2 linked regions of the Homo sapiens genome follow. The protein of the gene in region 1 purifies or fractionates together with the protein of each later gene. This does not show direct contact. Each region holds a gene or a part of one and is shown on either strand. Other genes may lie near its edges.

Evidence for each region.
Region 2: the proteins of CAD (region 1) and PIP4K2B fractionate together in Homo sapiens (co-fractionation; one large-scale study listed by BioGRID). This does not show direct contact.

Annotation. Positions count from the first base shown.
Region 1 is NC_000002.12:27,227,369-27,230,868, reverse strand, and holds part of CAD (multifunctional protein CAD), read right to left. Parts: intron 1-3,500. UniProt on the Homo sapiens protein: Multifunctional protein that encodes the first 3 enzymatic activities of the de novo pyrimidine pathway: carbamoylphosphate synthetase (CPSase; EC 6.3.5.5), aspartate transcarbamylase (ATCase; EC 2.1.3.2) and dihydroorotase (DHOase; EC 3.5.2.3).
Region 2 is NC_000017.11:38,775,557-38,779,056, forward strand, and holds part of PIP4K2B (phosphatidylinositol 5-phosphate 4-kinase type-2 beta), read right to left. Parts: intron 2,817-3,500; coding exon 2,778-2,816; intron 2,245-2,777; coding exon 2,131-2,244; intron 1-2,130. UniProt on the Homo sapiens protein: Participates in the biosynthesis of phosphatidylinositol 4,5-bisphosphate. Preferentially utilizes GTP, rather than ATP, for PI(5)P phosphorylation and its activity reflects changes in direct proportion to the physiological GTP concentration.

The DNA.
Region 1 (3,500 bases):
ACACTGGATACTGGAAGTTTATCACAGTGGCCCAAACCACTGATGGCTGTCCAGTTATTGGGTTTGATTTATTCACATAATCATAACACCAACTGGAATTCTTTAAAACTTTTTAAAAAAGTGTAGATAATAGGAAGATGATCCTTACTACTCATCCATGCAGAGCAAATCACATTTACAACAATCATTTTAGAGTTTCTCTTTCTGGACTTTTCTTCATAGGTTCATAGGTTTTTTTTTTTTAGATGGACTTTCGCTCTTGTTGCCCAGGCTGGAATGCAATGGCACGGTCTCGACTCACTGCAACCTCTGCTTCCTGGGTTCAAGAGATTCTCCTGCCTCAGCCTCCTGAGTAGCTGTGATTACAGGTGCGTGTCACCATGTCTGGCTAATTAGAGACGGGATTTCACCATGTTGGCCAAGCTGGTCTCAAACTCCTGACCCCGTGATCCACCCGCCTCGGCCTCCCAAAGTGCTGGGGTTACAGGCGTGAGCCACCGTGCCGGGCCCTTCATAGGTATGTTTTACATATCATCACAGCATACATATAATTTCCATCCTGTGTTTTTTCCTCATCATACATTTTCCCACATTGCCACATGGCCTCATCAACACCAACTTAATTCTTTCTTGAGACGGAGTTTCTCTCATCACCCACGCTGGACTGCAATGGCATGATCTCAGCTCAGTGTAACCTGTGCCTCCTGGGTTCAAGTGATTCTCCTGCCTCAGCCTCCCAAGTAGCTGGGATTACAGGCACCTGCCACCATGCCTGGGTAATTTTTGTATTTTTAGTAGAGACGGGGTTTCACCATGTTGGCCAGGCTGGTCTCGAACTCCCAACCTCAGGTGATCCACCTGCCTCGGCCTCCCAAAGTGCTGGGATTACAGGCGTGTGCCACTGCGCCCAACCAACTAACTTAATTCTTGTATGATCTGCCATAATTTAACTACTAACTGAAGGACATTTAGCTTTTTTTTTTTTTTTTTTTCTGAGACGTAGTCTCACTGTGTTGCCCAGGCTGGAGTCAGTGGTGCAATCTCAGCTCACTGCAACCTCTGCTTCCTGAGGTCAAGCGATTCTCCTGCCTCAGCCTCCTGAGTAGCTGGGACTACAGGTGCGTGCCACCATGCCTAGCTAATTTTTGTATATTTTCTAGAGATGGGGTTTCACCATATTGGCCAGGCTAGTCTCAAACTCCTGACCTCATGATATGCCCACCTCACCCTCCCAATGTGCTGGGATTACAGGCATGAGCCACCGCGCCCGGCCCATTTCGCTTTTAAGTGTTTACAATTAGGCAGTCCTGGTGGCTCTCACCTGTAATCCAACACTTTGGAAGGCTGAGGCAGAAGGATCACCTAAGGCAGATTGAGACCAGCCGGCACAACATAGTGAGACCTCCCTCTCTACAAATAATAATTAAAAAAAAAAATTAGCAAGGTGTGGTGGTGTACACCTGTAGTCTCACTCCTCAGAAGGATGGGGTGGGAGATTACTTAAGCCTAGAAGATCCAAGCTGCAGTGAGCTAAGTCACACCATTGCACTCCACCCTGGGTGACAGAATAAAACTCCGTATTAAAAAAAAAAGTTTTCATAATTATAAGTTAGGCTGTGATGTTTTCTTTCTTTTTTAACGAGACAGGGTCGGCCGGGCATGGTGACTCATGCCTGTAATCCCAGCACTTTGGGAGGCCGAGGCAGGCGGATCACGAGGTTAAGAGATCGAGACCATCCTAAGCAGTATGATGAAACCCCCGTCTCTACTAAAAATACAAAAATTAGCTGGGCGTGGTTGTGCGCGCCTGTAGTCCCAGCTACTCAGGAGGCTGAGGCAGGTGAATCGCTTGAACCTGGGAGGCAGAGGTTGCAGTGAGCCGAGATAGCACCACTGCACTCCAGCCTGGCGACAGAGGAAGACTCTGCCTCAAAAAAAAAAAAAAAGAAAAAAAAAAAAGAAAAGAAAAAAGAGACAGGGTCTCGGCCAGGCACAGTGGCCTGTAATCCCAGCACTTTGGGAGGCCAAAGGTGGGTGGATCACCTGAGCACGGGCGTTCAAGACCAGCCTGACCAACAGGGAGAAACCCTGTCTCTATTAAAATACAAAATTAGCCAGGCGTGATGGCACATGCCTGTAATCCCAGTTACTCTGGAGGCTGAGACAGGAGAATCACTTGAACCCAGGAGGCAGAGATTGTGGTGAGCCGAGATCACACCATTGCACTCCAGCCTGGGCAACAAGAATGAAAATCCGTCTCAAACAAACAAACAAACAAAAAAGACAGGGTCTTAGCCTGGCACCCAGACTGGAATGCAGTGGTACAATCACAGCTCACTGCAACCTTGAACTCGTGGGCTCAAGCGATCCTCCCACCTGAGCTTTCCAAAGTGCTGGGATTAATTACAACCACCGTGCCTGGACTGGATATGATGTTTTCTGTTTTGGATAATCTCCTTAGGATAAATTTCCAGATATGTAGAGGCAATAGGTAACACAAATTTTATAGCCCTTGATGAGTACGAATAACTTTATAGAAGTCTGTGCTTCATAATACAAAGTTTAAGCAACCTTCTAAGAAGTGGGCATAAACAGAGTCTCATTTAACTAGATTTCTATTTACTAATGAGAGGAACCGTCTTTTCTCTAGGTTTGCTTATTGATTTCTTCTTCTGTAAAGTGTTGTTCATCTCCTCTGACTATTTACTCTAGGGGCTTAAGTATTTCTTACCAAGTGTATTTTTCTATTTACAATCCTAACATTTACATTTCTTTAAAAAAGTTTTAAAAACACTACGATGTTAACAGTAGTGTGACTGATTTTGTTCAATTTCTTTGTAACTGTGGTTGTAAGACTTTTTATTTTGAGATTTGTTAAAAAAGGAGAAGCCTAATACATGCATACACATATGCCTAGAAATGTATGCAGTCGTAGATACACGGCTGAATTATGCAGTCGCAGATACACGGTCGAATTAATCAATCTCTGTAAGGCAAGATTACAGGTGACTACTGTTCTTTGGTTAAACTATCTTTCCTCGTTTTCCATGATTCATGTTTCTTACTTGTATAATAAAAGTTACAAAAAGTTACCAAAGAAGACCACATTCCAAGAATACTTGAACAGATGTAAAACAATTAAATGTCTCATCTAGGAACCAATCTTTCATTGGCCTATTTTCAATCCACTTCTTTTTGCCACAATTTAATTATGGCTTCATTCCCATGTTTATTCTAATTTTCATATAACAGAGATTCATCTCCAGAAGGAAAAAATTGGCAGTCTTGCAGAATTTCTAAAAATTCTGAAATAATATCTGAGCTTAGACTTACTTGTTTAAAGGCCACTACTGCTCTAAATGGAAATCTGGAGCACCACAAAATGCTCTTATCCATCAGGCTGGTGGCGCTGTGTCTGGTACACGTATATTTTTGTTTTGGTTGAAATGTGTTAGAGGACGGTCTTCGGCAACTAAAGGGATACCACAAAGAAACATACT
Region 2 (3,500 bases), on another chromosome or scaffold:
TTAAAAAGAAAGAAATTCTGGCCAGGTGTGGTGGCTCACGCCTGTAATCCCAGCACTCTGGGAGGCCGAGGCAGGCAGATCACGAGGTCAGGAGATCGAAACCATCCTGGTCAACATGGTGAAACCCCGTCTCCACTAAAAAAATACAAAAATTAGCTGGGCGTGGCAGCACGCGCCTGTAGTCCCAGCTACTTGGGAGGCTGAAGCAGGAGAATCGCTTGAACCCGGGAGGCGGAGGTTGCAGTGAGCCGAGATCGCACCACTGCACTCCAGCCTGGCAACAGAGCGAGACTCTGTCTCAAAACAAATAAATAAATAATAAAAAGAAAAAAATTCTGACACATGATACAGTATGGATGAACCCTGAAGACATTATGCTAAGCAAAATAACAGAGTCACAAAAGGACAACTGCTGTTTGCTTCCTTTTTTTTTTTTTATTTTTTGAGATGGAGTTTCATTCATAACATGTTGCCCAAGCTGGAGGGTCACCGCAACCTCCGCCTCCTGGGTTCAAGCGATTCTCTTGCCTCAGCCTCCCAAGTAGCTGGGATTACAGGCGTGCACCACCATGCCCGGCTAATTTTGTATTTTCAGTAGAGACTGGGTTTCTCCATGTTGGTCAGGCTGGTCTCAAACTCCTGACCTCAGAAGATCCGCCCACCTCAGCCTCCCAAAGTGCTGGGATTACAGGCATGAGCCACCTCGCTTGGCTGTTTGCTTCCTCTTATGTGAAGTTCCTAGAGTAGTCAACTTCATAGGGGCAGAAAATTGAACACTGATTGCCAGGGGTTAGGGAGGGGGAATTGGGAATTAGTATTTAATGGGTATAGAGTTTCAGCTGGGAAAGATAAAAGTTCAGAGATGAATGGTAGTGCTGGTTGCATAACAATGTGAATATACTTAATGCCACTCAACTATATATCAAAATGGTTAAGGTGCGTGCCTATAGTCCCAGCTACTTGGGAGGCTGAGGTAGGAGAATCACTTGAACCCAGGAGGCGGAGGTTGCAGTGAGCCGAGATCGTGCCACTGCACTGCACTCCAGCCTGGGGACAGAACGAGAATCTCCTAAAAAAAAACAAAACAAACAAACAAACAAAAAAAACACCTATTATTATATGTATTTTACCACAATTAAAAAAAATTTTTTTTCCCAAGTTTGTTTGTAGGATTTGGTTTTAACGAGCAGCCTCTCAATTTATTAAAAGAGAAGGAGACGCTGAGTTATCAAGTGGTCCAGATAACATTTTCACTATTTAGCACCTGTCCTCCCCAGATTACAAACAGAAGTTTGCTAGGTAAGTGGAGAATCAGAGCCAGAGCCAGAGAAGAACCTGATTAGTGGATTTTTGTTTTTTGAGACAGGGTCTTGCTCTGTCACCCAGGCTGGAGCACAGTGGCATGATCACAGCTCATGTTGCCTTGATCTGCCAGGCTCCAGTGATCCTCCTGCCTCACCCTTCCAAGGTGCTGGGATTACAAGAGTAAGCCACCATGCTTAGCCAACTTTTTCGGTTTTTGTTTTGAGACAATGTCTTGCTCTGTTGCCCAGGCTGGAGTGTAGTGGTGAGACCACAGCTCACTGCAGCCTCATCTCCCGGGCTCAAACAATCCTTTCGCCTCAGCCTCCCAAGTAGCTGGGACTACAGGTGTGTGCCCCTACGCCTGGCTAAATTTTTTAATTTTTAGTAGAGATGAGGTCTTGCTATGTTGCCTAGGCTGGTATTGAACTGCTGAGCTCAAGCGATCCTCCCACCTCAGCCTCCCAAAATGTTGGGGTTACAGGACCTTAATAGCTGGGTTCCTACAGCTCTGATGGCCAGATGCCCTCTCCATTGTAGGGACAACAGCAGAAGGGAGTTTGAAAAAGGTGTTGGAATGAATTAGTGAAAAGGGAAAAGCATTCTAAACTAAATTACAAAGGTCCTACTGGCGCCAACTATGCTCCGTCAGGTGGAATGATCATTTGCACTTGCTTTAGGTGCCCATAAGTGCCCACGCTGCTCAAATCACCACCCTTTTGTCCATACTCCTGGAAAGTACTGAATTCCATTCTTCTTAAGGTTTAAGAGGCGCCTACTCTAGGTACAGAAGGAGCCTTGCAGGTGAAAATGAAGGTTAGTAAGTACCTCAACGTCCCGCTTCAGTTTCTCCAGGAAGTTCTTTTTACTCTCCTCTCCCACATGCAGCTTCTGCCCTTCATTGAGGAAGTCATTGTCTTTGAATGTTGGCAAGTCCTTGGCCTAGGAGAGCAACAGCAGTTAGGCTGGGTAAGCCTGATTAATTCACCCCAGGGACACCCAACTGTTCTGCCGGGAGCAACTATACAGAAAGGGGAAGGAGGGGTTGTCAGTGTACCGACCCTCAACCTGCTAAATCAGCAGTGCAGGAGCCTCTAGTCCCAGGCTTTGGGTGGGCAGGGAGGGCAAACACATGAAAGATGAGGAATGACTAAAGGATTCTTTCCTGTTGAGCCTGGACCAGCTCAGGGCTCAGGCAGCCACTGACTGACTCAGGCTGGACTATGAGATAGAAATGTCTGCCATCCCAGCAGGACTATGAAGAACGTAGTGAGGGCAGAGGTAAAAGACCAGAGACCAAGGTCTAGGCCTAGCACAAGGACAGACAGGTGATTCATGACACACGGCATTTCATGTTGACAGACGGCATGTCTGGGAGCTGGGCTAGGGGCTGGGGTGGGCGAGGGACAGGATGGCCGACAGGAGTTGTTTCTGACTCCAAGCGACCCTTCCATTCCTGCTCAGCACCAGCATACCTTCTCCTTGTCGCTCGCTTCTCTGGCAACCGTAGAACCCTGAAAGGATAAGAGCCATCAGGGGAAGTCAAGCTGAGGCAAAGTCGACTGCATGAGCAAACATGGGAGAGCCAGCAGGTGAACTCAAGTAGGCTTGTTAGAGTCCTAGAGGGGCCAGGAGGCAGCACCTTGTTCATTTACTGTGTCAAGCCCACTTATAGAGCTCTATGTGCAAGACACTTTTTAGGTGCTCAGCAAACAGGACTGCACTGGAGAAGCTCAGTCCCTGCCCTTGAGCTACTTTCCTTCTAACAGGGGAGACAGATATTCAGCAGTGGTTCCACAAGTCATTAGTTCATTCACTACCACGGTGCTCAGTGGTACAGGGAGGAGCAGGACACTCTGAAAGCACATACCACACGGGCCCGGCCTGGGGAGGGACAGTGGCCAGGGCCTACCTACTTCCTGGAAGTAGTATTTGGGCTGAGCTCAGAAGGGTAAGGAGGAAGCAATTAGGTGGGGGAAGGAGTGGGTGGAGAGAGAGAAGGAGACTATTCCAGACAGCAGATGTGAAATCCTGGGAAGAGGAGCACAGGCACTGCAGGAACACAGAGGAAACCAGCCCAGTTGCAGCACAGAGGGAAGGGATGGCGGCATAAGGTGACAGAAGTCAGAAGCCAGGTTCAAGAACACGGAGCACCCTAGTTCACAGCCACAAGTGTGTCCTTCTCAGAGTCTAGAGAT